7 linked regions of the Homo sapiens genome follow. The protein of the gene in region 2 interacts with the protein of the main gene of each other region in a pairwise test. Each region holds a gene or a part of one and is shown on either strand. Other genes may lie near its edges.

Evidence for each region.
Region 1: the proteins of PLEKHG4 (region 2) and TENT5D interact in binary tests that used the Homo sapiens proteins (3 or more experiments, as listed by UniProt).
Region 3: the proteins of PLEKHG4 (region 2) and PRPS1 interact in binary tests that used the Homo sapiens proteins (3 or more experiments, as listed by UniProt).
Region 4: the proteins of PLEKHG4 (region 2) and METAP1 interact in binary tests that used the Homo sapiens proteins (3 or more experiments, as listed by UniProt).
Region 5: the proteins of PLEKHG4 (region 2) and TBC1D22B interact in binary tests that used the Homo sapiens proteins (3 or more experiments, as listed by UniProt).
Region 6: the proteins of PLEKHG4 (region 2) and FGD2 interact in binary tests that used the Homo sapiens proteins (3 or more experiments, as listed by UniProt).
Region 7: the proteins of PLEKHG4 (region 2) and PRPF18 interact in binary tests that used the Homo sapiens proteins (3 or more experiments, as listed by UniProt).

What each region holds. Positions count from the first base shown.
Region 1 is NC_000023.11:80,423,380-80,427,406, reverse strand, and holds part of TENT5D (terminal nucleotidyltransferase 5D), read right to left. Parts: intron 1-4,027. UniProt on the Homo sapiens protein: Catalyzes the transfer of one adenosine molecule from an ATP to an mRNA poly(A) tail bearing a 3'-OH terminal group.
Region 2 is NC_000016.10:67,285,605-67,289,631, reverse strand, and holds the end of PLEKHG4 (puratrophin-1), read right to left. Parts: intron 3,359-4,027; coding exon 3,269-3,358; intron 3,188-3,268; coding exon 2,966-3,187; intron 2,884-2,965; coding exon 2,713-2,883; intron 2,633-2,712; coding exon 2,455-2,632; intron 1,735-2,454; coding exon 1,618-1,734; intron 1,466-1,617; coding exon 1,232-1,465; intron 1,157-1,231; coding exon of another isoform or gene 1,144-1,156; coding exon 1,028-1,143; intron 830-1,027; coding exon 824-829; 3' UTR 152-823; downstream 1-151. Other genes in the region: BTB/POZ domain-containing protein KCTD19, read left to right, coding at 1-63. UniProt on the Homo sapiens protein: Possible role in intracellular signaling and cytoskeleton dynamics at the Golgi.
Region 3 is NC_000023.11:107,631,059-107,635,085, reverse strand, and holds part of PRPS1 (ribose-phosphate pyrophosphokinase 1), read right to left. Parts: intron 1-4,027. UniProt on the Homo sapiens protein: Catalyzes the synthesis of phosphoribosylpyrophosphate (PRPP) that is essential for nucleotide synthesis.
Region 4 is NC_000004.12:99,001,771-99,005,797, reverse strand, and holds part of METAP1 (methionine aminopeptidase 1), read right to left. Parts: intron 1-4,027. UniProt on the Homo sapiens protein: Cotranslationally removes the N-terminal methionine from nascent proteins. The N-terminal methionine is often cleaved when the second residue in the primary sequence is small and uncharged (Met-Ala-, Cys, Gly, Pro, Ser, Thr, or Val).
Region 5 is NC_000006.12:37,274,505-37,278,531, reverse strand, and holds part of TBC1D22B (TBC1 domain family member 22B), read right to left. Parts: intron 1-4,027. UniProt on the Homo sapiens protein: May act as a GTPase-activating protein for Rab family protein(s).
Region 6 is NC_000006.12:37,022,263-37,026,246, forward strand, and holds part of FGD2 (FYVE, RhoGEF and PH domain-containing protein 2), read left to right. Parts: coding exon 1-108; intron 109-3,529; coding exon 3,530-3,676; intron 3,677-3,828; coding exon of another isoform or gene 3,829-3,984. UniProt on the Homo sapiens protein: Activates CDC42, a member of the Ras-like family of Rho- and Rac proteins, by exchanging bound GDP for free GTP. Activates JNK1 via CDC42 but not RAC1.
Region 7 is NC_000010.11:13,614,465-13,618,491, forward strand, and holds part of PRPF18 (pre-mRNA-splicing factor 18), read left to right. Parts: intron 1-1,933; coding exon 1,934-2,089; intron 2,090-2,475; coding exon of another isoform or gene 2,476-2,517; exon of another isoform or gene 2,518-2,532; intron 2,533-4,027.

The sequences.
Region 1 (4,027 bases), on a different chromosome or scaffold from region 2:
CAAGTCACATAGTAGGTTTGCTAAATGTTTTAAGGTTTTAAACTGCTTCTTTGGCCTTTAAAAACTGTTCAACTTGCCTGCTTCACAATGGGTAAGGTCTGGGGACATATGAAAGTAACCATATGCCTCTAATTATGCTGAAAAACATCAAACTTTATCTGCACCTAGTATATAATTATAACAACTTACCAAGTTTTACATTGAAGTTAAAAATTGCTAAGAGTTACCATTATAACATGTAATTAAGTCTACTGTATTAGTCTGTTTTCATGCTTCTGATAAAGGCATACCTGAGATTGAGAAGAAAAAGAGGTTTAATTGGACTTACAGTGCCACATGTCTGGGAAGGCCTCAGGATCATGGTGGGAGGCGAAAGGCACTTCTTACATGGTGGCAGCAAGAGAAAATGAGAAAGAAGCAAAAGTGGAAACCCCTGATAAACCCATCAGATCTCGTGAGACTCATTCACTATCATGAGAATAGCACAGGAAAGACCAGCCCCCATGATTCAGTTACCTCTCCCTGGGTCACTTCCACAACATGTGGAAATTCTGGGAGATACAAGTCAAGTTGAAATTTGGGTGGGGACACAGACAAACCATATCAACTACTGAAAATGGATTTACGTGCAAGGCGTGTGAAAACAGTAAAATGTGTTTTTACTAAAAAATTGTAAGAAGGCATGGAAATGTACATTTTGCCTAGGGATAAAGAATTTTCTTAAATAAAATAAAGCAGAAGATTTAAGCAAACTGTGGAAAAACTGTATGAATTAATCTTACCATGAAAACTCTGTATATACATGTTAACTAAATTCAAAGGAGTATTACATAGATTTTTCTTTAAGTTAAGCATTAAAATAAAAGCACAACAAGGTTTTCTTTTCAGTAAAATTTGTAAAGGGTTATAAAAGGTTTGTAAAAATCTCACTTCATGATCAAACCAGTGAAAATTAAATATAATTGTCCACAAGGTTTCATTAAAAATTGGGGTTAACATTAATAGTAAACTAATGCAAGGGTAAAATTTGGCTTTCTCTCTTGAACAGGATTTTTGTGTAATACTAAAGGCTAATAAAAGGCTTTTGATTTTTCAAATTTTTAAGTCATCATTTTAGAAAAATAAATAACTTATGGTAATCTAAAATTCCATTTCATAATATCAAGTGTTTTAAACCAATAACATATTTAATGGGCTTCCCAAAATAAATAGACTTTCCTAACACCTAGCTTTCGGATGCTACAGCGGGCCCCTAGAGCATCCAGAAAACAGGTAAACAGAATTATTAAAGATGTTTAAATACATGGAATTGCCAAAGTAATGTTTAATCTTCTTCAGGTTATATTTCAGTAAATATTATTATTATTATTATTATTTTTTGAGATGGAGTCTCACTCTGTCGCACAGGCTGGAGTGCAGTGGCGTGATCTTGGCTCACTGCAACCTCTGCCTCCCGGATTCAAGTGATTCTCCTGCCTCAGCCTCCCGAGTAGCTGGAATTACAGGTGCCCACCACCATGCTCAGCTAATTTTTGTATTTTTAGTAGAGACAGGGTTTCACCATATTGGCCAGGCTGGTCTCAAACTCCTGACCTTGTAATCCGCCTACCTCAGCTTCCCAAAGTGCTGGAATTACAGGCATGAGCCACTGTGCCCAGCCTTCAGTAAATATTATTAACATATGTTCTAAAACCATATGGGATGTCTAAAGTTCTAATGTTTAAATATATGCTATCAATTATAATTGAAATTATCTTAAACTGTTGTAAACCACAAAAATAACCAAATTTCTTTGACAATTGTGTTTCTAACTGTAAACACCCTGATCATTTTGTCATTTAAGACAATTGTCTTGTTTTAATCCTCTTCAAAAAATGTTTTAAACTCAGCTGTAAAACTTTAACAGGTGCTTTCAAATGCAGGTATCTAATAATGGAAAAGCATACAGGATTCATAAAAAGCTGAAATGTTTATAAATATCAAGCAAAACAAGAGTTAACTGAATGGACTGAACTCATAAAAAGCTAATATAATCTTTTTAACTTTTGCTTAAAATATTGCTAATCCTTGTTTTTCAGTCAAGAAAACTTATTTTAAACTAGATACAGCCTTTAACAATTAAGTGAGGTATACTCCTGAAAGCAAAATGTAAAACATGTTTGTTTCTCTCTGCCTGGTTCCTCTAAAATTCAGACACTACATGTAAGCATTCTTAACTTCTAACAATATATTGTTTGCATCAGTGCAATAAGAATGCATTTTCTTTTGCAACAGGACAATTTAAAAACTGGTGTTTTGCCAAGGGTTTAACTAAAAGGATGTGTTTCCCTTTAAGAAGTCAAGCTTAACTTGAAAAGCCAAAAAAAGCCCCTTGGAAAAATTGGCCTTATACTTTGTCTACACAGTCCCTGTACAGGGTTCTTAATCTGTGGTGAGTAAAAAAGTCATTTTCTAACAGGCCCAGAACACCATGCTCTTGAAACCTCAGAAAAAAAGGAGTTTACCCAACTCACAGGTATTTAAGGGTGCAAACCCATGGCTGGGCTCAGCTTTAAAAAGTCCTATCTAAGATTCCTTGTAAAACAGAGTTCCATCAAAGCCCATCTAAAAGGCCTATGTAAAGGTAATTATTCTTGCTGCAGTTTCTGTAAATAATCAGGCCAAGTATGAGACTAAAGTCTATTTTGCAAACAACACAATCTTATCATAATTTGTTTTTAACAAAAATGAGGACTGGAGAAAAAATTATGTTTCAAAAGTTATCATACAGCTGTCATTAATTTCTAGTCTCAGTAGTTGTTTTCAAGTTCTTGCCTACCTACATTTTAAACTAACCCTATTTCTGTAAATCAACCAGCAATCTCCAACTACCACTCAAAGGAAACAAAAGGGAATGGGTAATGTAGAAATCGAAAACAATACTCTAGTTCTGGGCAATTATCCCACAAGTCCTGCCAGGTAATAAAAGTAAATAAAGTTCGCATAACCCACAAGTTTCTTTGTTTAAAAAGTAAAACCAAGAAAGCTAACCGAAGCCAAGCCCCATGAACCCAAATCTTAACACGCATAACTAGCCATCACTTAGCCTTGGAATTTTTAAGCTTCTTTACCTCCATCCTTGTTTCATTTTAATACATGTACTCTAATAACCCACATTGTTTCTTCTCATCTAACGGCTATCAAGCTACAAATGGTAATGCAAAAGGAACCATGCATAAACATGCCTTTCTTCCAAGGACCCTTAAGCCAGCCCCAAAAGAAACCCTAGTTGCTGTTCCCCACACAACACCCATCTCCAGCAAAAAGTAGCTAAAAAAAAAAAATCAACGCTTAATCTCCCTAACAGCAGTTAGGGTCTCCACTCCTGAGGGGGAGAATAAGAGAGAAAAGGTGGCAGTTAGGGTGGGCCCTTGGTAAAACTCCTGTAATTGGAGAAACAGCCTGAAAAATCAGGCTGCAGGCACAGATAAGAAAACTTGCACAAACCTCTGGCCCACTCAGATAAAGAAACAAGGCCCAACCTTTGTTCTTTGTGCCTAAGACATGCCTGCAGCCACGGTAATAAGAGAACAAGACTCTGCATAGAAATGTCTTTGTCCTTTGTATAACCAGCAGGCTTCCAGGAAATAGTCTCTTCTCCTTATGTGGGCATGTACATGGGGTGCTCCAGTAGGTTCTGGTGGGCACTTTTTTTTTTTTCTTTTCTAAACATGCTTTAAACCGTAAGCTCGGCCTAAATAAATCATTGCTTCAGCTCCTAATTGGTCCCAGGGCCAAGGTCTTTGGCCAAGCTTTCACTTCAGCTTCTACTAGGTCCTGGGCCAAGCTAGGTAGCCCCAATAAATCATCACTTCAGCTCCTGATTGGTCCCAGACCAAGCTAAATCACACTTTCCTCAAAACAGCCTGCAAACTATGCACATTCCTTCCCATCCCGGTCCATAAAAACCCTGAACCCCGGCCTCATGGTGGGGAACCCCTTTGGGCCCCACTGTCTGCTGCAGAAAGCGTTCTTCTTTTGCTTATTA
Region 2 (4,027 bases):
CAGAGGGGCCTGTCTAGGTCTGTCTCTTACTCCATCCTGGGAAAGTACCTACAAGAGGACTAGGGTGCCCAGAGATGCAGCCCCTCATGCCCCACCCGCCAAGTCTCATTTTAATTGGAGATAGCCCAGAATGCATGTGCCCATCAGAGGGTACATATCAGTCTATTTTTTATTATAAACAAATAAAAGATTAAATCACACATCAAAGACCTAGACTCCTTCTCTGAGACACCAAAGGCCTAACAACCAGTAAGATAATTTTAGACAATTCTATTGAAAGTTATTCAAAAGGCATCAAGTCAAAATAACGAAACTGCCCCAGTAAAAAGGGGCTGGGCCTGGGGGCCAGGAAAGGCAAGCATGAGGGCCCAGTAGAGGTGGACCTGTCCCTATGGTAACTGAGCTCGGCTTTAAGGCCAGGCATTGGGGATCAGCTGCTAGGAGCCCACCTGTGTTCTTCCTGAGGGGTGGGGGCACCCTAGTCACTGCCTAGAGGCACATGGTCCCCCACCAGCCTACAGCATGGAAACACCCAATGTCTGCTCTAGCCTATTCTTAACCCACAACTGGGATGGGAGCTGGGGACAGGAGAAGGGGTCATGGGGCCAGGAGCCTATTCAGGCTCTACAACCAGACTTCCCTAGAGAGGCCCCGTGCCAGTTAGTCCAATGGCCACACACATCAGAAAGGGTAGTCAACAGCGTTGCACATGTAGGTTGGAGGTAGCCCAGGTGTCAGCCACACCCTGGTCACAGCAGATCCAGAGAGGCAATGTTCCTTGGAGCTGCAGGCTGCTGGATCTACTGCTCGTCCAGTCCCGGGCTCAGACCTGCAGGGCCAGGCCAGGCATGAATGCCTGCTTCCCTGACTCTGGACCCAGGAGGTGTCTGGGGAATGGCTCTGGCCCACCCACCCCAAGCTCTACCCAAAGTAAAGGCCTAGCCTGGGCTGGGGAGGGGCTGGTCACAGTCACAGGCTCAGCTTGGGCTGGGGAAGGGCTGGTGGGTATAGGGCAAATGGCACTCACACAGGGTAAGTCCTCCAGGCCCCTACCCAGGGCCTGCCCTGACACACAGCTGCTGTCAGAGCCACTGGAGCCACTGGCTGATGGGCATTGGGACGAGATCTCTGAGTCCTCAGCAGCTAGGGAGGGAGACTGGGTGAACTGTCAGCACGGGAAGCCCCAGACCCCAAGCCATGCCCTCCTGCCTCTGGCTAGGCCCAGACATACTCAAAGAGGGCTGGCCGCCCAGCTCTGCCTCAGCCTCCAGTGCTGCTTCCTCTGGGAAGCTGGGATACAGGGGACAGCGGAGACCCAGAAGAGCTGGGTCTCTGTACAGGTGCAGGTTGAGGGACCCCAGAACAGAGCAAGAGGCAGGGTCTCCAGGAAGGGAGTTCGAGGCCCCCAGGTAGAGGCTGTCATGGTCAAACGGGGCTACGGCAATGGACGCCCGAGAGCGAACTTCTGCATAAGAGAGAGGGTCAGGTTGGGACAGGCCAGAGCCTAGCCTGGCCCCAGATCCCAAGGAAAGTGCGGGCCAGCACTAATGGAGGGCCACAGTGCTTCCCGCACAGCTTTCCTACTCCCACCCCCACACCCTGTAGCCTGCCTGCTACCTCGGCACTTCAGGACATAGTTGACGGTGCGGTCGTTGATGGCTTCCTCGCTGGGAGCAATGTCTCGGAAGGCCTTGTTCCCCACACCCATGGACACCATCTCAGCCATGCGCACCTCTGGGTGGAGAGTGGACATAAGTGGGATGCTTCTGGACATAAGCCTGTCCTTGGGCCTCTACCACCCCCCAGATAAGTCTTTCCTGTACACCTCCATCCAGCACATTAACTGTCCTGTGAGCTGAGCCTTTCTAGTGCCAGGTGCTCTCCTCCCAACAATCCTGTGGGGCAGGTGCCATATTCCCCTTTTAAAGATGAGGCCCCTGGCTGGGCGCAGTGGCTCACGCCTGTAATCCCAACACTTTGGGAGGCCGAGGTAGGAGGATTGTTTGAGCCCAGGAGTTCAAGACCAGTCTGGGCAATATAATGAGACCTCTATGAAAAAATTTTACAAATTAGGCATGGTGGCACATGCCTGTAGTCTCAGCTACTTGGGAGGCTTAGGTGGGAAGAATGCTTGAGCTCAGGAGGCAGAGGCTACAATGAGCAAAGATCATGCCACTGCACGCCATCCTGGGCGACAGAGCGAGACCCTGTCTCCAAAAATAAAGAGAGAGAGAGCCATGATGCCCCTTATATTCAGAGAAGTTCACGTTGTGTCCAAAGTCAGAGGCAGTGACAGCAAGGCTGCCTGGCTTTGAAATCCTTTCTCCTGCACTGGTGGCTGTCGCTGGGCCTTCTCCCCACTTCCCGAGCTTTTCCCAGGTCTCTGGGCTCCTGTGGGTCAATGTAAGCTCTCCAGTGAGGGGAGTGTGGCGTGAAGGAGGGGCATGGACCCACCCTTGTTGTGGACGGCCTGCCTCCAAAGCAGGTGGGAGATGTCAGCTGTCCAGGCCTGCTTGATAGCCAGGCTGGAGGCCTGCAGCACAAAGGTGTCCCTGGCCTTGCGGCGGCGGAACCAGATCTCGAAGCGCAGGTTGCTGTTCCCACAGCACTCAGTGAGACCAAGGTCTGCCATCTGTGGCCAGCGGGAGAGAGGGGCTTGGTAAGGCATGGGGCGGGAAAACAAGTGGTGGGGCCTGGGGTGGGCAGGCCTACCTTGAAGGAGCGCTTGTAGGCAAATGTGTCAACCCCTGTGGGCCCATGGCGAGGCTTGCTGAAGAGCAGCAGCTCCTCAAAAAGGAAGATGCGGCGCACGGACTTGTGGCGCCCAGTGCGCACCACAAACTCATCCTGTCGCACCAGCTGCCCCTGTTCCTTGAGGTTAACCTGCAGAGTTGGGGGCTGGTGGGTGGCCAGCCTCTTCTGCCTTCTTCTTCACACCCACTGCCCTTGCCCTGGGATGACTCACATCACAGCCCTGGATGGCGTCCATGGCCAGCAGGTCGTTTCCGTGCCGCAGCTGGAAGTGCACAAGGCTCTGGGCCTCCCGCAGCGCACTGAGCTCCTGCGTGGGGCCCCCGCAGGCCCGTGCCAGCTCCTGCAGCAGCAGTGCGTACTTGCCCATGCGCTGGATGGGCTTTAGCAGGTAGGAGGCCAGGTCCAGGTGGTCCCCCAGTGCTTGCTGCTTGTCCTGTGGGCGGATGGGAGGCCACTGAGTGGTTTGGGGGCACTCCCCGCATCCCCTACTCCTCCTAATCTCAGGTTCACTTACCTTGAAGAAGGTGTGCCCATAGCTTGACATCAGGGCATCGGAGCGAGGCTTATTCTTGCTGTAGAGCGCGTACATCCCAAACTGCACCCTCTACAAGGACATGTGGCTCAGCCCCAGTGCAAAGGGGCCAGCTCCCTAAGGCTGGCACAGGCTAGACCACCCTCAGCTTGAGAGGACCAAAATGCCAGTAGATGCCTCTTAGGGAGGCCTCCCCTACAGACCCAGTCTTCCCTGCTTTGAACAAGGGGTGATTTGGCAAGAACAGTACTGGGCAAAGGGGGTGTGCCCACAGGCCCCCAAGGAAGAAGCCCCTTGCCCTCAGACTGAGCTCCTGCCTTCAGCTCTGCTCCTCCCACGGCTCTAAGAGCTCACCTCACCTGGGACTGTCCTGCTCACTACACTCAGCCACCTCCTTGGCAGGCCCCCTTTCCTCCACACGACCTTGTACTTGCTCTTTCCTCTGGGTGGGACACTCACTCCAGCCCCTCCCCTATTCCTCAGCTTAAACATCAGCCTCTCAAAGACTTCCTCTTGTACCAGGTGTCCTGGCACCGCACTCAGGCCCTCTAAAGTGGAGCCCCTGCCCCGCCAGTAATTCACAAGCATCTATCCTGCTTATTTTCCTCCTAGCCCCAACTATAATCTACAAGTATCGTTCTTGCTTCTATGTCTCCTCTACTGGACTAAGAGCACCCTCAGGTGCAGGAGCCTGCCAGTCTTGCTCATAGCTATACTCATAGCACAGGGACTGGCACCAAG
Region 3 (4,027 bases), on a different chromosome or scaffold from region 2:
GCGGATCACGAGGTCAGGTGATCGAGACCATCCTGGCTAACACGGTGAAACCCCGTCTCTACTAAAAAATACAAAAAAATTAGCCAGGTGTGGTGGCGGGCGCCTGTAGTCCCAGCTACTCGGGAGGCTGAGGCAGGGGAATGGCGTGAACCTGGGAGGCAGAGCTTGCAGTGAACCGAGATCAAGTCATTGCACTCCAGCCTGGGAGACAGAGCGAGAGAGCGAGACTCTGTCTCAAAAAAAAAAAAAACAAAAAACTTTATCATTATCAAGTAAGACCAGAAAACAACATTCTTAGACCACAGTGGCTTATCTCCCTTTACAAATGCCTCAACTATCAGTCAATATAAAAAATACCCACAAAATTGTTATATTGTCCATGATGTTACTCGATATCACTATTTAGAGGTCTCACCCATAAAATTCTTAGGATTTTTTGCCTGGAAGTTTCTAAATAACTTTATGAAAATAAAAACCACATAATCGATTGCATATGCCTTTATCCCTCTGGCTGTCAGGAAGCCAAGGGATACAGTTAAAAAAATGTAACACTAGGCTGGGGCGGTGGCTCACGCCTGTAATCCCAGCACTTTAGGAGGCCGAGGTGGGCAGATCACCTGAGGTCAGGAGATCGAGACCATCCTGGCTAACATGGTGAAACCCCGTCTCTACTAAAAATACAAAAAAAAAAAAAAAATTAGCCATTAGCTGGGCGTGGTGGTGGGCGCTTATAGTCCCAGCTACTCGGGAGGCTGAGGCAGGAGAATGGCGTGAACCCGAGAGACAGAGCTTGCAGTGAACCGAGATCGCGCCACTGCACTCCAGCCTGGGAGACAGAGCTAGACTCCATCTCAAAAAAATAAATAAATAAATACATAAATAAAATAAAAAGTAACACTAAACTTTAGAAATTGTTTTATGCCAAATAGTTGCCACAATTACTGTAGTCCATGGTTCTATAAGGCTTCTGATACCTACCTTAACAAACGGTTTGTACTAGTGACTATCAAACATACTTCAAATCCTTTCTTGAAAGCAGGTGAGATACTATTTAAAAATTAAATTATCACTGCTAATTAAAACATCAAAGGGCATCTGATAAATATATAGCTTTAATAGAGTTGATTATTTTATTTTTTAAATTGTATTTATTTTTTTTGAGACGGAATCTCACTCTGTCACCCAGGCTGGAGTGCAATGGTGTGATCTCTGCTCACTGCAACCTCTGCCTCCCAGGTTCAAGTGATTCTCCTGCCTCAGCCACCCAAGTAGCTGGGACTACAGGTGTGTGCCACCACGCCTGGCTAATTTTTGTATTTTTAGTAGAGATGGGGTTTTGCCACATTGGCCAGGCTGGTCTCAAACTCCTGACCTCAGGTGATCCGCCTGCCTTGGCCTCCCAAAGTGCTGGAATTACAGGTGTGAGCCACCGCACCCAGCCAAGGTGATTATTTTTAAAATATACATATTCTAACATCACATAAGGCTTGAATAATAATTTTTTATAAATCACTTATCAAACAAAAAATAAAAATAAATAAAAATCACTTATCAGCTTACCACCCAATACAGTCGCTAGTACCATTTTTGTTATTATATCACTTAATAATCAATCAACAGCTCAGCTATTTCTCAAAGCCAAACTTTTTTTTTTTTTTTTTTTTGAGATGGAGTCTCGCTCTGTTGCCCAGGCTGGAGTGCAGTGGCAGGATCTCAGCTCACTGCAAGCTCCGCCTCCTGGGTTCACACCATTCTCCTGTCTCAGCCTCCCGAGTAGCTGGGACTACAGGCGTCTGCCACCATGCCCAGCTAATTTTTTGTATTTTTAGTAGAGACAGGGTTTCACCGTGTTAGCCAGGATGGTCTCGATCTCCTGACCTCGTGATCCACCCGCCTCGGCCTCCCAAAGTGCTGGGATTACAGACGTGAGCCACCGCACCCGGCTCAAACTTTTTAAAATTAAAAGCTACCTTCAGCATAGAAGGTGTTTGTTATAAGGCATGTATCTAATAACTTGAAAAGGTTATTTAACTGTTTAAAAAATGTGGGGCTTTTGAAAAGATCTTACAAAAATGAAATAAAAGTAGAGAAACTTAGAAAGCAAATACATAAATAAAATAAGGTGGTGCAAGTAAACTAGGTGATACTGCCTTGTTTTAATGTGTATAATTCTAATTTCACTTATTAAAACCAATCTTTCCCTATAGTAGTACTATAACATACAGACTTTGTTTGACAAAGTCTTAAAAAGTCCGTGAATTGCACTCTGATTATACAGCTTGGTTCAACAAGTCCTCTAAAAATCTTAACCTTATTCTTATGGCTTCTTCTAAGTTATGGCAGTGATCGAGAAGAATATTTGTGCCTAAAACCTGTTTGCTCCTAACATAATCTATTAAGTGGAAAAACCTAATTCAGCAATTTAGAGAGTAATACTCCTTGTTCTCTCCCTCTAGTTAATGGAGTGTTCTCCAAATGGCTTTGGGCCAATCATTCTCTCAGCTGTTTTGGTGAGGCCAGAAGACTGGCTATGTCTATCCAATGAGTGAAAAAACTAGCTTCTCTTTTCCCTTTCCTTTAAGGTCAGGCATAAGTGTATCCAATTGAAATGGAATGTCAGGAAACACCAAAAGTGAATCTAAAAGGTGGATAGTAGTCTTAAGAAAATCTGAAGAATTTAGATTATGGAGATATTGGCATGTGCAAAATACATGGGATTAACTAACCACAACCAGAAGATACAGTTCTCAGGAAAACCCTAGGCAACCAAAGTTCAAGTCTTCCTCCTCTCAGCTAGTACAGAATAACCAAATAAACCAAAGTTATTTACAAATATTGAAGAGAATAGAGTCAAAATTTTAGAATATCTAAGTTTTTAAAGCCAGGTGAGAGATCTTGTCAGCAAAAATTTAAAGGAACAATAATACCCAGAGCTGGGCAAGTTACTCTGCATCTTACTGTAGTTCTCTTCTCTGTAAAATAGGGATAGTAAGAGTTATTCCTCATAGCAGTTTTGAGGGGATTAAACACAATGTATACTAAATGCTTAGCATGGAAACTAGCACATCTTAGGCATTCACTATACATTAAATATTATAGCCGGGCACGGTAGCTCACACCTATAATCCCAGCACTTTGGGAGGCCAAGGTGTGGGGGATCACCTGAGGTCAGGAGTTTGAAACCAGCCTGGCCAACATGGTGAAACCCTGTCTCTACTAAAAATACAAAATATTAGCTGGGCGTGGTGGCACGTGCCTGTAATCCCAGCTACTCGGGAGGCTGAGGCAGGAGAACTGCTTGAACCTGGGTGGCGGAGGTTGCAGTGAGCTGAGATCGCACCACTGCACTCCTGGGCAGTAAGAGTGAAACTCCGTCTCAAAAAATAAATACATAAATAAATATTATTAATATTGTATTACTGCTGATGAGACAGATTTGTTCAACTTTTCTGGGGAATAATTTGGCAACAGGTATCAAAAGCCTGAAAAATGGTATCTACCCTTTAACTTAATAATTACCTTCCTAGGGATTTATTCTAAGGAAATAATCAGAAATGGTCAAAGATTTATGTTCATGGATTTTCATATAAAAGCATTAGATCAAAAACTGGAAATGTCCAATAAGAATTTGGTTATATAAAATTATGGCATAACCATAAGGTAAGACTATATAGCTATTTAAAATTACATGAACTAGCCCACCTCAGTGGTGCATGCCTGTATTCTCAACTACTTGAGAGGCAGAGGCAGGCAGATCACTTGAGCCCGCGAGTTTGAGGATGCAGTGTGCTATGATTGTGCCTGTGAGTAGCTATTGGACTCCAGCCTGGGCAACATAGTGAGACCTCATCTCTAAAAAATAAATTAAAATCTTTAATAATAAAAAAAGAAAATCATATATACTAAATATTAAAGGGAGAAACTGTTCAAAATATATTGCTAAGTGAAGAGAGCTATAAATGTATTAAACATTCTTGAAAAAGTGTATCTTACACAAATATCTGGGAGGTCAGAAATGATAATGTGA
Region 4 (4,027 bases), on a different chromosome or scaffold from region 2:
AATAACAGCCTCTGGTTCCTTCCACGTTGCTGCAAAAGATATTATTTCATTCTTTTTTTAATGGCTGGGGAGTATTTCATGATGTATATATATCAAATTTGCTTTATCCACTCATCAGCTGACACTTAGGTTGGTTCCCTATCTTTGCAATTGTGAAATGTGCTGCGATAAACATACATATACAGGTGTCTTTTTATATAATGACTTCTCTTCCTTTGGATAGATACCCAGTGGTTTCTACAGTGGTTGTACTAAATTACATTCCCACCAGCAGTGTTTAAGTATTCCCTTTTCATCACATCCATGCCAACATCTATTGTTCTTTGACTTTTTAGTAATGGCCATTCTGGCTGGAGTAAGGTGGTATCTCATTGTGGTTTTAATTTGCATTTCCCTGATGATTAGTGACATTGAGCATTTTTTCATATGTTTGTTGGCCATATCTTCTTTTGAGAAAATTCTATTTAGGTCATTTGCCCACTTTTTGATGAGATTATTTGATTTTTTTTTCTTGCTGATTTGTTTGAGTTCCTTGTAGATTCTGGGTATTAGTCCTTTGTCAGATGCATAGTTTGCAAATATTTTCTCCCTACAGGTTGTCTGTTTACTGTGATTATTATTATTATTTTTGCTGTGCAGAAGCTTTTTACTTTAATTATGTCCCAATTATTTATTTTGAAGTACAACCACTTTGGAAAACAATCTGGTATCATCAAAGTAAAGCTAAACACATATCCTATGACCCAAAAAATTTACTCCTTAGGGGTATACCCAAGAGAAATTTTTACAAACAGGCACCAAGAATCAGGCACAAGAATGTCTAGAGGAGGACTATTTATAATAGAAAAACCGTAACAACCCAAATTTCCATTGACAGAAGAATGTAAAAGTTATGATATATTAATTTATTGGAATATCACATAGCAGTGAAAACAATGAAAATGAACCAGAGCTACAATGAAACATGGATAAATCTCAGGAACATAATGACAAACAAAAAAACGCATGTTGTAAAAGAATACATGTAATCATTTTGTTGGTAAAAAAAATTTCAAAAACATTAAAAATACATTTTTTAAGAAATCAAACATGGAAATGCAAATGAATGATAAACACAAAATTCAGGATATGGAATACCTCTTGGATGAGGGACAAAGAAAAAGGAGCCTTCTGTTTTCACTTGTTTTCCTGGTAATGTTCTTTTTAATAAGTTAGATGGTAGGTATATAGGCATTTACTGTATCATGCTTCTTTAGATCCCGTGGATGATTTGCTGTGTTATTTTGTGTGTGTGTGTGTGTGTGTGTGTGTGTATGTGTGTGTGTGTGTGTGTGTGTGTGTGTGTGTGTGTATCTGTCCACAGTTCCTTGGCTAATAACTCCCCTAGCCTTGTTGCAGTCTCGTTATAGTGTTGGGTGCTTTAGGCCTCAGGAAACAGACTCTCTCCAACCTTCTCCTGCTCTCTTCCTTTCACCCTACCTGAAGGCAAGTGTCTAACCCCCACCTTTGTGATGTGGGTCATAAGACTCTCATTCCAGAGAGGGTCCCACCCCATATACCCTGAAGGAATGAAGATTCCATAAAAACCCAAGAGGATTGGGTTCAGAGAGTTTCCAAATAGCTAGCTGAACACTGAACTCATGGAAGCTTGGCATCCCTTCCCCAATACCTTGCCCTATGCATCTCTTCATCTGTATCCTCTGCAATATCCTTTATAATAAACTAGTAAAATAAGTATTTTCCTGAGTTCTGTGAGCTGCTCTAGCAAATTAACCAAACCCAAAGAGGGGGAGCCATGAGAACCCCAACTTGAAGCCAGTCAAGTTTTAAGTTCCGGAGGCCCAAACTCGTGACTGGTGTCTGAACAGGGTGGGAAAGGGGCAGCTTCGAGGACTAAGCCCTCTATCTCTGGGATCTGACACTATATCCAGTCAAACAGTGTAGGAAATGAACTAAAGGACACCCAGTTGGTGTCCACTGCAGAAATGATTGCTCGCTTGGTGGTGAGGAGAAACCCCCATAGGTTTGGTTACAGAAATCATCTGTGTTGATGACTGTTGTGGTATGAGAACAGAGGGAAAAAAGTTTGAGTTTTTTTCCCAAACATTTACTAATATTTTTATTCTACTCAATATCAAAAACAATTTAGAAAACATACATCGACAGATCCTGACTTTATGGTCCTTAAAACTTTAATTCAAAAGCAATATTAAATTATTCATGTAACAACATTCACATTTTTCTCTATCATTTGTTTAGTGGAGTGAGAAGTTAACAGTATTCTAATAGTCAATCCCATCCCTATTACCAGTTAGTGAAATAATCAGTAATAACATAAATCCCCACTCAGAAGACAAAAAAAAGTTATGACATTTTTAAAACCTAACGGAACTTACATTTACCTATTTTATTGAACGACTAAGCCTGTAACTTGCTGGATAAGACAGGGTTAACCTTCAGAATGTGATGCAAAGATTGGTTTGCGTTTTGTACTTAAATCACAGAAGAATCATTAAACACACATTCAAAACACAGAGAAGTCTCTGTTGCCTCCCACTTTATAATGATAAGGGAAGTTGCTAAAGTTACAATTTCACTTATCATTTATATCCTAACCACTCTTTAAAGGCTTGAGCCTGTGACCCAGATAAATGCCACATTAGCAGATAGCAGACCCCAATTAACAGGGGCTTTTCTTGGTTTGTTGTTTTTTGTTTGTTTGTTTGTTTTTGAGACAGTCTTATTCTGTTGCCCAGGCTGGAGTGCAGTGGCGCAATCTCAGCTCACTGAAACTCCACCTCTCAGGTTCAAGAGATTCTTGTGCCTCAGCCTCCTGAGTAGTAGCTGGGATTACAGGCATGCACCATCACCACCCAGCTAATTTTTGTATTTTCAGTAGAAACGGGGTTTCCCCATGTTGACCAGGCTGATCTCGTAGCAAGATATCTGCCCGCCTCAGCCTCCCAAAGTGCTGGGATTACAGGCATAAGCCACGGCGCCTGGCCTTAACAGGGTTTTTAGAAATGCTTTCCAACAGACATGGCACAGCTCTGGTGTATCAGGAAGAAATCTTTACTGAGCCTTGCAATAAGTCAGGTTACTGGAGATAAAAACAGGAGAGAACTTATTTACAACTTACAAAGCATGAGAAGTTCCATGGGGTCCCTATCCTAGTTTCATCCATAAGGTGCCCCACACACACATGCACACACAATGAGAAAGGCAGGCCTCGTTTACAGAGTGTTTTGAATTGCTCTTTATTCAAACCCAGAGACAAGACTGATACCAATCAAGGAAATCAAAGGAAAAGACTTATAATTGTTGAGCTGGGAGCACTACCTGCCCAAGCATGAATAAAAGAATGCTTCATGTTAAAACTGTGAGGTCAGGCGAAGTTCAGGATCAAGCACAAAGGGTTGTAATTACATTTATATTCCATTACATTAAACATTTGATACAGAATGAAGCTCAACGGTTGCTTTATAAAGTATTTCTGCCTATTTAATATCTATCTAAAAGTGTTTGCTATTGCAGTAATACCAAAGACAATTACAGAAGGAGTTACCGTGCCACTGCTTTTCTTCCGAATATCTAGAGCTGGAATGAGCTTAGCTATGCACTTATGTCTGTCACTCCTATGAAATTTACTAAAACTTAACTAAAATTTTGCAAATATGCTAAACATGAAAAAGATTCACCTTAAAAAACCATGACTAAAACTTGATTTCAATCCACAAACTAAGTGAACAGTATAAGATCACATTTCCTATAGCACTTCAATTTCCAAAAAGGTAACTCAAAGACTGGTATAACTTTTGATTGCCTACCAACCAAATGATGCTCGTTTTTTTGTTGTTGTTGTTTTACAAATTCTACTGTAATGTAGGTATATTTCATGCCAAAACTTCATAGATGACCAGAAGGCCCTCAAACCAACAATAATCCACTAACTACACTGTGAGAACCACTGTTCTGGAAAAGGATATAGAATTAGCTTAGGATAGTTCAATTCTGGGTTCATGTACCA
Region 5 (4,027 bases), on a different chromosome or scaffold from region 2:
TTACCCCACCCCCATTTTAGACATGTAGCATGAGCAGGAAATAAACCTTTACTATGTTAATCCACAGAGATTTGACAGTTGATCTGCTATCACTTAGAGCAGCACATAAACTACTGGCAGAAAACAAGATAATTTTAGGTAGTCCACATATGTAGCATTAAACATTAAGTCCCAAAATAAAAAAGTTGTTCCATTTTTTATTCTGTTAAAAGTTCTTCTGCTGGCCTTGAGAAGAAAGTTGAAGTTTGGTGCTACTCTGTCTTTAAGACCATTTTCTAACTAGGTGCCAAAGTGACGGCAGCCTCAGAATCAATATATTTGCTAGCAACAAGATCTGCCTCTGGATTTAATAAGATTGTTTGGTTTTTCACTGAGTATTTATATGGTTCTTTTCTTTTAAGAGTCAGGGCCTTGCTCTGTCACCCAGGGTGGAGTGATGGAGTGCAGTAGAGAAATCTTGGCTTACTGCAGTCTTGAACTCCTAGGCTCAAGCAATCCTTCCACCTCAGCTTCCTGAGTAGCTGGGACTATAGGCGCACACCACCATGTCTAGCTTTTTTTTTTTTGAGAGATAAGGGTCTCATTATGTTGCTCTCGCTAGTCTCAAACTCCTGGCCTCAAGTGATCCTCTCACCTGAGCCTCCCAAATTGCTGGGATTACAGGCATGAGCCACCACGCCCAGAAGTTCTTCTTATTTATAACAAATGTTGTTTTCTATTTATAGAAATGATAATATTTGTTCTTAAAACAAGACTATTTGAGTGGCCAGGCACAGTGGCTCACGCCCGTAATCCCAGCACTTTGGGAGGTGGAGGCAGATGGATCACTTGAGGTCAGGAGTTTGAGATCAGCCTGGCCAACATGGTGAAACCCCATCTCTACTAAAAAAATACAAAAATTAGCCAGGCATGGTGGCGCATGCCTATAATCCCAGCTACTCGGGAGGCTGAGGGAGGAGAATTGCTTAAACCTGGGAGGTGGAAGTTGCAGTGAGCCAAGATCACACCACTGACTCCAGCCTGGATGACAGTGTGAGTGACACTCCGTCTCAAAAAAAAAAAAAAAAAGAACTATAGGAGACAAGTACCCAAATCAAAGAAAATAAAACTGAGGCTGCACGTTCTGGACTCATCCACCATGGCTGCTTCTCCTTTGTAAAAGGGGACCTGATCTACCACCTGCAGTACCACCTCAGGGGATTCGCTGTCGAGAACAAACATGCAGCTGTGTAAGAAAGATCTGTCATCTAATATAACACCCAGGAGTATGTGGTTATTACTGTTTTTCCTCCTTAGAGGCCACGTGTACATTAAGATTGCATAAATACTGGATGTTCTGAGAATTCTTTAATCAATCATCAAATCAAGAAGTTGAATTTTAACTCAGGTCAAAGAGCTGACTTGAAGCTGGTGGCCTAACACAGGGTGACACACACGCACACCAGGACCGGATGAACACACTACAGGGAGAGACGGGCCAGGCTGCCTGTCAGGTTCTAACAGGTGCTGACTTCTGAGAAAAATGAAGGCCGTTAACCAGCTGAGGGGTGGGTACCAGGGTGTGTGTTGTATTTTTCTTCATACGCTTTTTATGCATTTGAAGGTTTTCGTTTTATATATATATATATTTTTGTTTGTTTTGAAAAGGAGCCTTGCTCTGTCACCCAGGCTGGAGTGCAGTGGTGCGATCTAGGCTCACTGCAACCTCCACCTCCTCGGTTCAGGCGATTCTCTTGCCTCAGCCTCCTGAGTAGCTGGGACTACAGGCACGCACCACCATGCCCAGCTAATCAGGCTGGTCTCAAATTCTTGACCTCAGGTGATCTGCCCTCCTCGGCCTCCCAAAGTGCTGGGATTACAAGTATGAGCCACCATGCCTGACCAGTTTTCATTATATTTTTGAAGCAGATAATGATTCAATATATATTTGAAGTAGATTAAGATTGGAATTTACTCAAATGAAGACTTGCCAATAGAAACTGGGAGGACACTTTCCAACACAATGAAGAAGAAAGAAGGGAGAAAAGGCTGTCATTCCCCATGACATAAAGACATGAGATTCAAGGCAGACCATTTTGAGGCTGCTAGAAATGATTTTAAGGATACCTAGCCCACAAAACCCCAAATTCAACCAACCAATTTAAAAGTCAGCTCTGTCCTGAGGAAAGAGGCTTTCGTGGAGGAAGGGGTTGGTTTCACCTAGAAAAGGGGAAGAGTCTGAGGACAAAACAAGGTTGGTGAGAACCACCCACAAGAATGAAAGAGAAGGCTGGGCATGGTAGCTCATGCCTGTAATCCCAGAACTTTGGGAGGCTGAGACAGGCAGATCACCTGAGGTCAGGAGTTCAAGACCAGCCTGACCAACATAGTGAAACCTCATCTCTACTAAAAATACAAAAATTAGCCAGGTGTGGTGGTGCACACCTGTAATCCCAGCTACTCAGGAGGCTGAGGCAGGAGAATCACTTGAACCCGGAAGGCAGAGGTTACAGTGAGCCATAATTGTGCCACTGCACTCCAGCCTGGGTGATAGAGCAAGACTCCATCTCCAAAAAAAAAAAAAAAGAAAAAAAGAAAAGAATGAAACAGCAAAGCAAGAAGTGAAAGGTACTTTGGGTTACCACTGAGAGAAGGCAGAGAATCCACAGACCAGGAGCAATAAACAATGATGGGTAAATTTAAGGCTTTGAAGCTTTTCCATGTTTACTAGTTATGCTCTCTCCAGAGGAGATACATAAATTCACAAATAAATACATATAAATATTGGCTACTCACTAGCCATATTCATACATATTCATAATATTCATAAATATTGAATACTCACCAGACCCTATGCTAAATTTTAATATATACCCATTTTCTTATCTAATGCCCATTAATAATCCTATGAGGTGGGTATTTTTGTTAGTCCCATTTACAGATGAGGGAACTGAAGCCTACTGAGATCATGAGCAGGCAGTGAGGTCTGGGCTCAAATCCAGGTCTACCTGACTCCTGGGCCAGCATGTGCTACTAACTACTTACTTTACCTTGAAAAAAGCAGCTAAAAAGAAGAAGGTCAGGGCCTAGAAGGATCTGCAGCCTAGGAAGAGAAGTCGCCAAGTAAACCAAGCCACATACCACCACAGCTATAATTCTCCCCAACTATACACAGCCAAAAGCCCAACTCTCACACCCTGTAGGAAAAAAAAAAATCTCAACTTGTAGGAAAAGACTTAGGTCTGACACACATAGCCTATTCTGAGTAGACAGGAAAGAAGCCACATCTAGGCATGGGCTCCTTGTAAGAGAAATGTCACCCCTTTCTGTTGACCCCAGTAGTTGCAGCAAAAAGTTAATCCAGGTAACTCCAGCTGGGGATGCCTTCGGTTTATATACTCCATTTAAACACAGTCCCAGGTAGTTTACACTTAACTCAATGTAAAAGAATGCCACAGTGTGGCTTGAAGTCTAACCAAGATTATTTATTATTATTATTATTAAGATGGATTCTCGCTCTGTCTTCCAGGCTGAAGTGCAGTGGTGCAATCTTGGCTCACTGCAATCTCCGCCTCCGGGTTCAAGCGATTCTCTTGCCTCAGCATCTTGAGTAGCTGGGATTACAGGCGCATGCCACTACGCCCAGCTAATTTTTGTATTTTTAGTAGAGACAGGGTTTCACCAATGTTGGCCAAGATGGTCTTGAACTCCTAACCTCAGGTGATCTGCCCACCTTGGCCTCTCAAAGCGTTGGGATTACAGGCGTGAGCCACCATGCCCCACCCTAACCAAGATTATTTAAACACAACTCTATCAAAGTCACAACCAAACTGGCCTCTGACGAACACCTTCACCATACCTCCTTACAACTGTACGATAAATTATAGTTTAGAAAGCACCTTTGCAGATACCTCATGCAATCCTCACAAATCTGTGAAATGAGTCTTACTATCTCTATTTTATGAATGAAGAAACTAAGGCTTGGAAAGTTTCAGTAATGTGCCCAAGGTCATGGAAATGGTAAGCGGCAAAGAAAAAGAGATTTAAG
Region 6 (3,984 bases), on a different chromosome or scaffold from region 2:
CGGGCACCGCAGTGGGTCCGGGACAAGATGGTGACCATGTGCATGCGCTGCCAGGAGCCCTTCAACGCTCTGACGCGCCGTCGCCACCACTGCCGGGCCTGCGGCTATGTGAGTACTCCTGCCAGCACTCCTGCCTCCACCTGCGTCACCCAGGCCTCCACCTGCATCACCCAGGCCTCCACCTTTCCTACCTAGGCCTCCGCTTGATCCACCTAGGCCTCCACCTGCCCCACCTCGGCCTCCATCTGTGTCACCTCCACCTGTCCCTCCGAGGCCTCCACCTGTGTCACCCAGGCCTCTATCTTTCCTACCTAGGCTTCCACTTGATCCACCTAGGCTTCCACTTGATCCACCTAGGCCTCCACCTGCCCCACCTTGGCCTCTACCTGTCCCACCTCGGCCTCCACCTGCCCCACCTTGGCTTCCACCAGTGTCACCCAGGCCTCTACCTGTCCCACTTAGGCCTCTACCTGCCCTACCTGGGCCTCTACCCACCCAGCTCAGGTGCTGCTGTCCCCATCTTGGCCAAATCTGCTGGCTTCAACCAATGCAGCCCAGTGGTGTTGGGCACTAGCTCTGAGCCAGGTGTGTGTATTACTACCTCATCTGGCCCTCACAGCACACCTCAGGAGGCTGCTGTTTCCCATTTTTTAGATGGGAAAATGAGACCCATTGAGGTTAAATTACTTGCTGAAGGTACCCCTGAAGCTGATCCTATGAATTTACCTGCATTCTTATCATCATTTTCCACGACCCTGAGACCCAGAGCTAGGAAATGGTCCCCAGTTCTAGTGGAGGGGCATCTAGCCCCGCACCCCCTCAGGCCTTGCCCCACCACCTCACCAGGCCCATGCCCACTATGCACTCACCCACCCCGTCATCCTCTCTTTACCCGCTTCGGCTAACTGTCCTCTCTTCTCTGCAAGCCCTCAGCACCCTGGCACCTGATGGATTCTGTTGTTAACTCTGCCTACTGGTTCAGGCCTCAGTCTCCTTAACTCCGCCATGGGGATCGTGAAACCTACCTCCAGTGTGGCAGTGAGGATTCCACCAAAAAACATTCTTTCCCTTCCCTCTCCTCTTTTTCTTTCCCCCTCCTCCATAACTCAGGCAGGGCATCCAGTGCGGGTGAGCTACCAGCTTCTTGAGGAGGGTACTGTGTCCACTACAGTTTCTCCTCTTATCAATCCAGGCCCAGTTACCAGAGGTAGATCTCGCTTTGCTTTTTAAGCACTCCTGTACTTGAGCTGTTCTCTGTTGACATCACAACCCCCTCTGTTTACTCTGCAAACAGAGAAGCCCTTTGCAACCTCAGTCTTTGATGACCTCCAGAGGACAGGAGGAGTCTAGCTGGACAGGTTGGGGCCAGTCAGGGAGGTGTCCCCAAAATGTGTTCAACTGCAATCAGGACAGAGTCAGTTTCTAGGACCTGGGAACACACCTGCCTTCAGATGTCAGTGATGAGTTACATCCCGAAGCCAGGTAGAAAGGATGTGGGGATTGGCTACTGTTCCTGGTGATTCACTTCTGTAAATAAGAGTTGAATTGATTCACACTTGTGAGTGAAAGTAGTTCTTTAAAAATTACTTAAAATAGTGAAATACAAAGAGGCACAAAGAATAACAACACCTGTGTAGCTGCCTTCCAGCTTAAGATAGAAAATATTCTGACAACTAAATTAAATGTATGATCCTTGCTTGGATTCTTTCTGGGGTAAAATAAAGCTATCAAGGTTGCTCTTGGGACCATTGGGAGAAATTTGATGATGCAACATATCTAGATAATAATATTGTATTGGCTGGGTGCAGTGCCTCACACCTGTAATCCCAGCACTTTGGGAGGCCGAGGTGAGCGGATCACCTGAGGCCAGGAGTTCGAGAACAGCCTGGCCAACATGGTGAAACCCTGTCTCTACTAAAAATACAAAATTAGCCGGGTGTGGTGGTGTACACCTGTAATCCCAGCTACTCGGGAGGCTGAGGAGGGAGAATCGCTTGAACCCAGGAGGTGGAGGTTGCAGTGAGCCCAGATCACCCCACTGTACTCCAGCCCAGGCAACAAAAGCAAAACTCCATCTCAAAAAAATAAAAATAATAATATTGTATCAATAAATTTCCTGAGCGTGACTGTGACACCGTGGATAGGTAGAAGGATGCCCTTGTTCTTAGGAGACCACCAGCTACATATTTAAGGGTGAGGTGTCATGATGACTGTAATTTATCCTCAAATGGTTCAGAAAAAAATAAAATACATACATATAGAGAGAGACAGAGAGCAAATGTGGCACAAATGTTAATAATTAGTGAATCTAGTGGGTGGTATCATTGTATTATTTGTTCAATTTGTCTGTCGGTAGGAAATTTTTCAAAATTAAACGTTGGTAGAGGAAAAAATATTTACTAATTATATTTAAACATTGAAATCGCTCAATAAAAAAAAAATGCTCCTGAGGTAGCTGAAGCCCCCGTGTGGGGCTGTGCCCTGACCGTGGGTTTCTCTTGCCTGTGCAGATCTTCGTGCCTGCTGAGCCAGTGAGTCATCCTTTCGGTGGTTCGGGTGCCAGTTTCTGTCTCCCCTGCCTGCCAGACGGGAATCCTTGTGAGGGTGGGGCAGGGCCAGGCCTTCTTCTCCAGGTCCCTGCCAGGCCACACTCTGTGCTGGGCACACAGAGGAGCTCCCTGAAGGCTGGTGCCGCCTGATGAACTACACTCCCTCTGCCCCTTTCTCCTGCCCTCCATCTCCACGCCCACATCTGGGCTCCCCATAAAGCCAAGTCTTCCTCGCAGTCACACCTTGCGGCACCCAGTGTTCCTCTCTGAGTCTTCCCAGGCCCCTTTTACCCAGCCTCCCGGCATGATCCATGTCAGCCTTTGGGGGGTGTCTTCGTGGTGAGCTGAGAGTGGGCCCCGCTCCACAGAGTACCCATGTAAAAACAACCAGCCTATCATTTTTAGGTGAAAACACACTTGACTCCATGATGGCGCAGAATACAAAGTCTGCCTGAATCTTAAAGCTAAACTGTGGGACTTGAAAGACACACCCTGTGTGTGGAGGGCCTGTCTGCCAGGTAACAGTGTGGCTCTCAGGGTCAGGAGAGGACAAAAGCTGGGCCCTGCTTGCCTGGTGGGGTCTTTGGGAGAGTCAGGTGAGATGGCGGAGAGGACAGCATTTGGAAAAGTGAATCAGATGCCAGTGGCCCGTCTGGGGCAAGCCCCTTGGGTTCACAGCAGCCCTCACTCGGAGGGAACCTGGAGGGGAGAGAAGTTACGGCCCTCGCGGTGGGGGCCGGGTCTTGAACCCTCAGCCTAAGAGCCCCGAGCCCGAGCTCCCCCATGTGTCGCAGCCTCCAGGCAGTTGGGCCTCACCAGCATGGGGGAGCATCCCCGCTCTGCCTCTATTCCTCCCTCGAAGCTTTCTTTTCCTCCCCCAGTCCCTGGTTGCTCTCATGCCCCCACCTGCCCACCAAGGCAGGAGCCCAGCCCTCCGGTGCCTGGTCTCAGCCCCATGCCCCCTTATGTGTCCTCCTCAGGTGGTGTGTGCCAGGTGCTCCGACTACCGGGCCGAACTGAAATACGACGACAACAGGCCCAACCGAGTCTGCCTCCACTGCTACGCATTCCTCACTGGAAATGTGCTGCCTGAGGCCAAGGAGGACAAGAGGCGGGGCATCCTGGAGGTGAGGGCCACTGTCCCCGCGCTCACCATCCGTCCTCTGTTCAGGGAATGTGTGCCCGGCAACCATGCTGGGCTGACACTGTCCAGTGCTGAGGAACAAGCCAGCCATGGTCACACCCTCCCCCCTCTCCCTCTTCCTCTCTCTGCCCACAGACCCCAGGCCTCTCGCCACAGCCCAGGCAGTGTGGAGCCTGTCACCAAATGGAGGCACCCTTTGGCTGCAGGCTGTCGTCCACATTCTTCTGCACTTCCTCTATGTCCCCATCCGATAGTACGGCCCCTCTGGACAGCTCATGTTCACGTCCCCAT
Region 7 (4,027 bases), on a different chromosome or scaffold from region 2:
GGATGGTCATAAAAGCCCCTTTAATCTGTAATATAGCTGAACTGTTGCACTGATGGTACAGTGGAATTTAACCACTCTTTGTAATTGTTTCTATGGGGAAATGGTTCAAGCAAGGCTTCCAGGACTCATCTCTCCCATTTCAGCGTTGCAGACCCCTGCAGTGGAAGTCTCTCCTCCCTTGCCCCAGTGTCTATACTCCTGAATGGGCTCTGGGAGGCAGCGGTGAGGGAAAGGGTGCTGGTGTCCAGGGCTCCCTGAGATAGAGTTTAGAAAGGGATGAGAGGAGGACTGTCAGTTGGTACAGGGGAACAAGAAGGGAAGGGCCCAATGCACCAGTAGTGGCAATGAAGAAAGAACAGAGTTTGAGGGAGGCTTCTTGTGGCCGTGCCTCCCAAGGCACTAGGAGTAGAGCATTTCAGTGCAGCAACCCCAGTGCCAGTGCCAGAGCGGTAGGGAACTCGGAATGACATTGCTTATCCAGTGCTGTATCTGTATACTGACGTAACAAGGGACTGCTGGCATTCCTGAGTGACTGGATGATTTACGTGATTAGAGCCTTAGGCTAAAGAGGTTCCTGCAGTGATTTTACTCCTTTTAAGAGCCAGCCAGTTTTCTCAAAGAAAATATTTTTTGTCTTACAGTTATAAATGTGCTTCTTAGTTTCTGTCAGTTGCATGATTCTTACTAAGGATGGTTGCATTGGCATGGATGGATAAGGTCACCATCACTGCAGGAAGAATGCACATCACTCCCTGCTAGAATGGATGCCTTTCCTCTTACTGCTTTTTCTCGTGATCACATATCAGAACTAAGTGCAAGTGCAAGCTTATTTTGTATAAACTACAGAAAGAACCAAGAAGCTTTAATAACCTGTTTAGACAGTTTCTTTGAAATTTGGGGGAAACTAAATATTGCAGTTTTTATCAGTTAAGATCCAATGTTAAAGTTTATACACATGAAAATTAGTGATAAAAATGTACATAGGCCCTTTTTAAATTAAGCTTTATAAAACCGGTGAGCAGAGCAAGTTCACATTTATCTTTAGGGTAGAAAATGATCTTCCAGCTACCCTATCTGTAGTATCTGATTTTAAAAAAATTGACTCTCCCTATCAATCTCATAGGTGTCTGATTTTTTTAAATTAAAATCTCCTTGAGGCCTGGCTTTATAAGCTTCTCTTAACCCTTGAGGTCCTTTAGAATTTATTTGCTTTATGTTTTTCTTGTTCTTCCTCACAGCTAGCCAGGCTTGGTTAGGAAAAAAAGCCTTTTGTCTTCATTGGTTTCTGTCTTCATTTTTTGTGGCTGTTCTTTAACGGTTCTTGGCAGGTAGGGGGTGGGGTGGGGGGCAAAGTGGAGCGATCTCATCCTTCAGCTATTCGACTGGAGGGCCAGTGTTTCCTCTCTGTTTACACATCTGTTAAAGACCCTGTGTGGTCGTCGGCACATACTGAGCCCCCACTTCCTTCAGAGAGCCACAGTGCTGTGTAGGGAGTGGATATTGTTTAGGGTTGGACGATGAAAAACTACTTAGCCCCTGTCTTCTACATGACCCCCTGTGGAGAAGACTGGGTCTAAAGGAGACCAAAACTAGAATTTTCATCAGTGCATTGAAGTGCCTACCTGGTAATTCCAGATCTGCAACATATTAATTTCCAGCATACAAAGGCTGCAAAGGAATGTTTGCCTTTTTTTTACTCACAACCTAGCTTTGGTTTCTGTTTTTTCCATGGACATTGGTGGTCCTGGGCAGGGCAGTCTGTTACCCTGTATTTTAATCTGTTTTGTTTGAATAACAGTCATGGTAATATTTTCCATGTGCCCAAAAGGTGGACGAAAATTACATCATAAAGGGCTGTGAAATACTTTCAGTAAGAATTTGAGCCAGTACAACATTTTCGCCTTTCTGATTTCTTCTTACACTTTCCTTTCAGGCAAATGATGCTTATCTTCAGATGGCCATTGGAAATGCGCCTTGGCCCATCGGTGTCACTATGGTTGGTATCCATGCCAGAACTGGCAGAGAAAAGATTTTTTCCAAGCATGTTGCACATGTTTTAAATGACGAAACTCAGCGGAAATATATTCAGGTAAGCAGTTTGGAGAGCCGGGAATTGCCCTGGAAGTGAATATTCTCTAATTCCCAAAACTCTAAGTCTGGAAAGCAGGCAGAGAATTACAGCAAATAGAACATAGCGTGATAGGATGGAAGTCCCCTCTGGATAAGCACTGACACTGAAGCCACCTTCACTGAATAAAGTAAAAACCTTTCAACTTTCATATATGTTGGAAGACAAGGGTGAAGTATTGTGCTTTAATTACCTTAGCACTGAAATAAAATGATTGCAGTTTGCTTTTTTTTTTTAAGACGTGTATTAGGAAGTAAAAGTTGAGCTCATCAGAGAAATGTGGGAGTTTAGTGAAGAGCAACAAACTTAGAGTATTTTACAATAAATCCTGCTTTGTTGCTTTCAAGGTAAATCTAACATCTACTGGGTTCAAGATGTATGGAGAGTAAAGACTTGGCTTTAATGTACGTAGCACGTAACAACACTTCTTTAGTCATGTGAATAGGTCTAAAGTGCCGATGGTTTGTTTTCTTCAAGTTATACATGCTTCACATAAACTTGTTGGTACTGTTTTTGGGCTAAACTTTTCTCCCTAGTGGGAAGAAAATCGACTATAATGTAGTGTTTGCCAGATTGTCATAAATCCCAGATTGTGTCTGTAAAATGACTTGCTGGATGATAGTTCTAAAACTTGACAGTGATACTCCGGAAGTTTACTTAAAATTTGAAGTTCACTTAAAATGCATAAAGTGCTTTCAGATTTTGTGCCAGAGAACAGTCATTACCATATTCATGAAATATCTTTTTGTTTTTATTTCACTTCCAAGTGCTGAATGTTAATTCGTGTCATGCTTTATGCCTTAGTCACATATAATAGCTTTTTAAAATATGATTTCAATCGGACTCCCTCATGTGAACTGTATACAGAGTTCAAATATACTTCTGGAAATTCAACCACATTTCCATTTTTTAATAACCACCAGTGAGTGTATTAAAGGCAGAAGCTTTTAGCTGAAAAAAAAAAAAGTTGCTTAGCTTTAACAATAGAAAACAGGTTCCAAAGATTAAATTTGCTAATTGTGTTCATCTATATTGTGGCCAAAGGTATAGTGTATAAAAGTTCATATGATTAAATCAATCGTCTGAAAGACATTTCTTATAAACAGTAATGTGATTTTCACCTCCCCGAGGAGTGATTTTTTTTTAAGTATACCTAGCATTTATTCAAGAATTCTGGTTTATTTTGGAAGCTATGTAATGACCTGTCCTTACTCCATTGTTCTTCCTTTTTAACTGTTCTCTTCCCATTAAAAAAAATTCTTCTTTTGCCCCCTAGGTGATTAGAGAAAATTGATGAGCATACTGTATTTGAAATTTAGCTAGGTGTTTGAGGCAGACCCAGTGGTATTCTTGTGGATAGGGCAAATCAGGCTGGACTCATAGCTCATTGACAGAGGGAAGCCATGGAGCATTAAATAATGGACTCGTGTCTCTTAGGGTAGATGCTAGAGATGTATGTCAGGGGTCTTAGGGACCTCAGTGCTGTCCTGTCGAACCTTTTAATGACTGACTTGGATGGCTATACCGAAGGATGGGTTTATCAGGTTTGCAGACAGCAAGAAACTAGAAGGGATGGAGTGTATGTTAAGGTGGAAAAGAAACTGCTATTCTAGAAGTTCTTGACAGACGAGAGAGAAGGGCAGAGTCTAAAAATACAATATTTAGGAAGGAAGGATTACCATAAGAAAATTGGACCCATATACCCTTTTGCTTAAGCTTATAATTTGGGCAGTGGATATAAAAAAGAATTAGAGGCTGAGCATGGTGGCTCACACCTGTAATCCCAACACTTCGAGTGGCTGTGGCGGGAAGATTGCCTGAGGCCAGGAGTTTAAGACTAGCCTGGGCAACATAGCGAGACCCCATTTCTACAAAAAATAGAAACTAGCCAGGCATGGT